2 linked regions of the Homo sapiens genome follow. The protein of the gene in region 1 purifies or fractionates together with the protein of each later gene. This does not show direct contact. Each region holds a gene or a part of one and is shown in the gene's direction. Other genes may lie near its edges.

The links. The genes of interacting proteins can lie anywhere in the genome.
Region 2: the proteins of SPRYD4 (region 1) and GOT2 purify together in Homo sapiens (co-immunoprecipitation; one large-scale study listed by IntAct). This does not show direct contact.

Annotation. Positions count from the first base shown.
Region 1 is NC_000012.12:56,471,578-56,475,077, forward strand, and holds part of SPRYD4 (SPRY domain-containing protein 4), read left to right. Parts: coding exon of another isoform or gene 1-66; 3' UTR 67-195; coding exon of another isoform or gene 196-259; 3' UTR 260-541; coding exon of another isoform or gene 542-618; 3' UTR 619-1,112; coding exon of another isoform or gene 1,113-1,174; 3' UTR 1,175-1,650; coding exon of another isoform or gene 1,651-1,743; 3' UTR 1,744-1,885; coding exon of another isoform or gene 1,886-2,017; 3' UTR 2,018-2,966; coding exon of another isoform or gene 2,967-3,143; 3' UTR 3,144-3,268; coding exon of another isoform or gene 3,269-3,319; 3' UTR 3,320-3,466; coding exon of another isoform or gene 3,467-3,500. Other genes in the region: GLS2 (glutaminase liver isoform, mitochondrial isoform 1 precursor), read right to left, coding at 1-66, 196-259, 542-618, 1,113-1,174, 1,651-1,743, 1,886-2,017, 2,967-3,143, 3,269-3,319 and 1 more.
Region 2 is NC_000016.10:58,727,817-58,731,316, reverse strand, and holds part of GOT2 (aspartate aminotransferase, mitochondrial isoform 1 precursor), read left to right. Parts: intron 1-3,500. UniProt on the Homo sapiens protein: Catalyzes the irreversible transamination of the L-tryptophan metabolite L-kynurenine to form kynurenic acid (KA). As a member of the malate-aspartate shuttle, it has a key role in the intracellular NAD(H) redox balance.

The DNA of each region.
Region 1 (3,500 bases):
TGAAGCAGTTTGACCACCTCCAGATGGTTGAACTGCACAGCATCATCCAGGGGAATGTTGCCCCACCTGAGAGGAATAATGATATGATCAGGCAAAGGAGACGTGGAGAGTGGTGGTTGTATATATTTGCATGGTGGCTGGAGGGTAGGTGGAGAAGCTGTGCCCACCCTCCTCCACTTTTAGCCTATTCCTCACCTGTCCTTGGCAAAAGGATTCACTTTGCAAGCCTCGATCAGGAATTTAACAACTTCGATGTGTCCTAGGAATATGGGCAGAAGGAAAATGAGAAGGCGCAGGTCTTGAACCCTTTGGTGCAGACACTTAGCCACTGAAGTCTTTACCAAGAGGGGAGGGGAAAAGGCCTCTTCCCATTTTGTACCCTGCAGCACTCAGTCATAGTCTAGCTGCAAACCGAAGGGTGTCTAGATAAAACTAGTTGCTGCCCCTATAACCTTGAGGGCACATATAATGAAGGTACTTTTGGTGAAAAAGAAAGGGTCTTATGATTACCCTCCTCCTCCCCTCCTTAACCCTTCAGTACCTTCAGCTGCAGCAACATGCAGAGCTGTGCGCGAGTCATAGTCTTTCTGTTCCATATCCATGGCTGACAAGGCAAACCTGAGGGTAGTGGGAAAGCAGCTAGAGTTGCCTAGATCAGACTGGAATCACAGGTGTTCTTTGTGAACTGGTGTCAGACTGGATGAGTTTCAGAGAAAGTGAAACAGCCTATAGCCAGATTTGTTGGCTCTGAATAATCTTTTTTCCATATCCAGATGAGACTGTTATACTCATATTAGAGAGATGGGAATGTGATCCTTCCAGAAATATCACTCACTGCCTACCTGTGGTAAGTGCCCATTTGAGGCAGGGTACCTACTTCCTAGGACACTGCTCTTAACACTCAATAACAATGGCTAACATTAATTATCATAGAGCAGACAGTTTACTTTTTTTAAAAAAAATCTCCTTTTTTAAAAAAATTTCATTTAAATGCAATCTATATCCATTCTAATTCCAAAGCTGAAGCACTTAACTATTTTGTTACGCTGCCTCCTAGTAAAATCTCTGACCAGGAGTATTTTATTGTGTATATTTGGTCACAGTAGCATTACCTTCGAAGAGCTGAGACATCGCCACTATAGGCAGCAAATAACAGGTTGACCACAGTCTTGTTCTGGAACACAAATCATACCCACATGACATTAATTGAACTCACCTATGCCAGCTGTGCCCTGTGACCCTCCTCCATGGATGCTTAGTCCAAGGGTATTGCTGAAGTGTTATGGAATGTGCTACTCTGAAATATTCTTTTTTTTTTTTTTTTTTTTGAGACGGAGTCTCGCTCTGTCGTTCAGGCTGAAGTGTAGTGGCGCGCGGTCTTGGCTCACTGCAACCTCTGCCTCCCGGTTTCAAGCGATTCTCCTGCCTCAGCCTCCCAAGTAGCTGGGACCACAGGCGCGTGCCACCACGTCTGGCTAATTTTTTGTATTTTCAATAGAGACCAGGTTTCACCGTGTTAGCCAGGATGGTCTTGATCTCCTGACCTTGTGATCCGCCCGCCTTGGCCTCTCAAAGTGCAGGGATTACAGGCGTGAGCCACCGCACCTGGCCTTTGAAATATTCTTACAAGCCACCTGGAGTTTTCCTTACCCGAATTTCTGCCCCTTCACGCCGTGGGTCTAACTTCCGAGCACAGTGCCTCAGGTTGTCATAGTTGTGGAAATTGAAGAGAGACACCAACTTCTAGAATTGTAAGCCAAATATATTGTTTATTTACTCCTTACACTTAGTAGGAGCTCAAAATTGCTTTATTATAGTAAAAGTGGTACCATTAAACAAATTTATTGCTTCAAAAATAGTAAGTACTATATGCAAAGCATCTCACCTGGCAGAAGCTGGTCCCCCTATGGCTGTTCCCCAGCTTGTCCAATGGGGGTGACAGGCACATCATTCCCATGACATTGGGTACCACCAGGAGGATGGCTCCTGATACAGCTGACTTGGCTGGCAGGCCCACCTGGGGAACAGAACTGAAGCTGAGGATAAAGTGGGTGTGCCCCAAATCAGAAAATAAACAAGTTAGGCTGTACTCTTAACAAGTTTACAAATGACTGCATGACCACAATCCACCTCAACCTTTTGGCTTGTTAATTAGCTTCTTTTATTACTCCTGTCCTTTCCTTCCCTTAAATTCATTGATTCAGCTAGAAAATATTTTTTGAAATACTTACAGCATTCTGTGCTAGATGCTGTGCTAGAACTAGGAACTTCCATTCTGGTGTTAGGAGATAGGTAATAAACAGGTAAATAAATAGACACGTAATGTTTAAAGTAATTGTGATAAATAGTGAGAAGTAGGGTGCTGTAAATAGAGGTAGAGGGGGGCCACATGAGATAGGGTGGTCAGAAAAGTCTTTCTTTGGAAATGACATCTAAGCTGAGACCCCAAGGAGAAGAGCCAGCAATGTGAAGCACAATTCAGGAGCTGCAACACCTCTGGTTGTTTTTCTTTTTCTTTTTTTCTTTTTTTTTGAGATGGAGTTTTGCTCTTGTTGCCCAGGCTACAGTGCAATGGCACAATCTCGGCTCAGTGCAACCTCTGCCTCCCAGGTTCAAGCACTTCTGCCTCAGCCTCCCAAGTAGCTGGGATTACAGGTGCACACCACCACCCCCGGCTAATTTTTTGTATTTAGTAGAGATGGGGTTTCACCATGTAGGTCAGGCTGGTCTCGAACTCCTGACCTCAGGTGATCCACCTGCCTCGGCCTCCCAAAGACATCTCTTTATATATTCGAGGAACTTGGTGTTTTTGAGAAACTCGTCTAAGGAGTCTCAACCTAATTGCCTTCCTGGAAGTTAGTGAATGAGAGGCAGGAACAAGCTTCCACCTCTATCTTGAGAGAGTCAGTGTTCTCTCTTCTTAGCACTGGGCTCATGACAGATGGATAGCAGAGCCAGAAACTCACGTGGAAGGCAAACTGGCCAGAGAAGTCATACATGCCGCAGGAATGCATGAGGCTGAGGGTGTTGCGCACTGCTTCAGCACTCAGCACACTCTCGCCTGTGATGGGGCAGATCCCACCGTTGGCGAGGGTGGCTGCCATGACACTGCCTGATTCACAAGTGACCTCCACAGAACACAGCTATGAAAACAAAGAATAGGTGAAGATGTGACGTGAACCTGCACATGGGACCCTCGGGTGTAGGGAAAGGGCAAGGGCAAGGACAGTCTGTCCTGTTCCCTCGGCCCTGAGCAGTGTTTTCTTACCTGGAAGTAGAGATCAAGGGCAGCCATCATGTCCACCCCCTTAGGAAAGCACTGCAAGGAAGAGAGGGGAGAGCATTTCTCTTCAGGACATCAGCCCTTTCACACTGTCAGGGTCTCAGCTGAAGCCCCCAACCCCTACTGCCCTTCCACTAGCAGCAGAATTCCCAGGGACTTTCTCTTCCGGCCTCTTCTGGTTACCTTCTTTTCCTTGAGATAATAGCCGATGGCATAA
Region 2 (3,500 bases), on another chromosome or scaffold:
AAAAATTAGCCGGGCATGGTGATGTGCACCTGGAGTCCCAGCTACTTGGGAGGCTGAGGTGGGAGGGTCGCTCGAGCCTGATCGCTTGAGAGGTGAAGAGTTGCAGTGAGCCCGCTGATCACGCCGCTGCACTCCAGCCTGAGCAACAAAGCAAGACTGTGTCTCAAAAAAAAAAGATCACAGCTGTGCTATTGTCTCTGCCATTTTTAGCTCTGTGATTGTGGGCAAGCTAATTAACTTCCCTTCTGATTTTAAAGTAAGAAGAATGTGAGGAAAAGCAGTTTAAAAACTGTAAAACTTTAAGTAGGCTTAAGCTCCAGGGAAATTACAATGCGTTTCGATTGGAAAGGCTTACCTGAATACTTGGTACCTAACCTCTCTTGGATGACCAGTCAATATTGCTCAATGTTTGAGGCTTTGTGCCTGTATCCAAAATGTACTGATAGAAATCACTTTCTAGGTCACAGGTTATCAGCATGAGTTTTGCCCCTAGAACACTCCTATTTTCATCTACTCGATTCCTTTAAAAACATCAGAGTTCTTACAATATGTGTGTAGTCTTTACCATTTTAAGAAATGGAATAATGAAAGGCATGGAGGAGTTGAAAGATGGTTACTAATGTGGGGCTAATCAAATTGAGTATTCCCTCTAGGCCAGGTGCCGTGGCTCACACCTGTAATCTCAGCACTTTGGGATGCTAAGGTAGGAGGATCACTTGAGCTCAAGAGTTGGAGACCAACCTGGGCAATATGGCACAACCCCATCTCTACAAAAAACTAGCCAGGCACGGTGGCACACACCCATAGTCCCAGCTACTCGGGGAGGATCACTTGAGCCCGGGAGGTAGAGGCTGCAGTGAGCCGTGGTCACGCCACTGCATTCTAGCCTGGGTGACAGAGTGAGACCCTGTCTCAAAAAAAAAAATTGTATCCCTCTAGGAGGGGAACAACAGACACTGGAGCCTACCTGAGGGTAGAGAATGGGAAGAGGGAGAGAATCAGAAAAAATAACTGTCAGGTACTATGCTTATTACCCAGATGATGAAATTATCTGTACACCAAACCCCCAGGACATGCACATGTACCCGTGAACCTGAAATAAAAGTTAAAAAAACCTCCCATGCCTCTGCCCTTCAGATGCTAGTAGCACCTGCTTTCCCCCAGAGTTTCAACAAACAGAAATGTCTCCATAAATTGTCAGTGTTCCCTAGCTAGGCAACCCCTTCCTCTCTCTCTGGCTAAGAATAACTTTCCTTGTGATCTGGATTATAAACTTGTCTCAAGCAATAGATACATAGTTTTCATACCTGTGTTCTTTAATCTGTACTTCATTTTCAATCTCAAAACTAGCATTGTAATTGTAAAATGAACATAATTTATTACATTTTTAAAAAAAAAATTGAGTATCCCTGCTCCTATATTTAGATTGTTTAAAAATTCAGTATTTTGAAATTGTGTTTAGAATTCTTAAAAGACAGAGGCTGGAGGGCTGGGGCTGAGGGAGGGTGGTGGGCCTGCGGGGACATTCTTACTGTGCAAACATAGCGATAAAAACATGTCATTTTCCAAAGCAAAAACAAAAACAAAAAAAAAGAATTCTTAAAAGGTATACCAGAAGACACAAGTCTATGGTTTCTGAGTTTCTATGCTTAACATTTTAAAGAACTTGAAAAATAAGTGCTTTTCACACCATTTAACAAGAATGATGCTTTCTCTCCTTGTGGTAGGGAGCAATGGGCAGTGGCTTTGTTATGATTGAGGGTCTTGGAGGATACAGACCATTGTTTTTTCTTTTTCTTTTTCTTTTTTTTTTTTTTTCTTCCTGAGACAGGGTCTCTATGTAGCCCAGGCTTGTCTCAAACACTAGGCTTAAGTGACCCTCCCACCTCAGCCTCCTGAGTAGCTGGGACTACAGGCAAGAGCCACTATGCCCAGCCAGACCATCTTTTGAAAAATGAAAACTTTTCCAGAAGTGTTCTCTTTTATAATCTAGTATGTCCTTGACATTCAGGGTATTCCTTTCACTCGGCAGTTAATGACAGTGATGTAGATAGACAGGTGGCTGCATGTTTTCAGGGTCTGAATTGTGGATAAGTAATAATGAAAGCTTTCTTCAGGCCCAGTTCAGAAGTTGGTTTAAGGTATCTGTGCTTCTTACTATTGCCTAGGTACTAGGAACAGCCAAGCAACCTAGAGCCACAGCAACACAAAATGAGAGGCAAGCTATTAAAAGAACTGGCACCAACACTAGTGAGGGGGAAGGGTGATAATGGCAGTGTCTCCTGATTCTCTAGAAAAAACTATGCAGTAGTAATTGAAAAGCAGAAAAGGGCCGGGTGCGGTAGCTCACGCCTGTAATCCCAGCACTTTGGGAGGCTGAGGCGGGCAGATCACTTGAGGTCAGGGGTTCAAGACCAGCCTGGCCAACATGGCAAAACCCCATCTCTACTAAAAATAAAAATAAAAAAATTAGCCGGGCGTGGTGGCGGGTGCCTATAATCCCAGCTACTTGGGAGGCTGAGGCAGGAGAATCGCTTGAACCCGTGAAGTGGAGCTTGCAGTGAGCTGAGATCGTGCCACTACAGTTCAGCCTGGGCAACCCAGTGAGACTCTGTCTCAAAAAAAAGAAAAGCAGAAAAGGTTGGTTGGAGGGTTGTGGGTTATTGTTAAACTGATTAACATTGTCTCCCCCCACAGCCATGCTTGATTTGCTTTGTATTTAAAGAGAAAGAAAAACAGAAAGGACCTGCATTTGGTCACAAGGTCTTACGGCTGCATATGCTCCTTGAATTCTCTACATACTGGCCTCACCAGGCTCTGTACTAGGATGCAGGATGGTTACAAATAAAAGTGGAGTGATAATAATTTAGTAACGATGACTATTAGCGAACATCAGGCACTCTGCCAATTTAGGTTTTGAGTGTTTTTTTCATCATTAGACCAGCCCTGTGAGATAGGTAGTTTTATGGCCCCATTTTACAGATAAGGAAAGTTGATGCTTGATTTACTTGCCAGTGCTCACACAGCTGGCAGGTGGCTGAGCTATTATTTGAATCCGTACAGTTTGCCCAGTACTGAAATTACCCAAGGCAAACTATTAAAAGAAACATTACAAGAAATAAGAGCCTGGGAAATCCAAAAAACTGGAAATAATCTGCCCTTTAATAACAGAGAATTGACTGTACACACTAATTAATTACAACGATTGAGACTGCAGCAGTCTTTAACTTGTCAAGGGAGCATGAATTAAACTCTGTACTGCCATCAAGTGTGCCCCATGGAGGAGTGAGGTGTATGAGTGCTGACTAGCCACAAGTACATTAAGAGAACCTTTGTTGGGAAAGAAATGTTCATGAGGTAATTCACGAGTTTATCAGCATGGTGAACACGGAGAACTTCCATGGTACCATACTGAAACATGTGGCTGATTCACAGTGGATGAGTGATTACTAGGAGAACTTGAGCGATTCTCCTGCAACAACCCCCAGCTCCTTCTCACC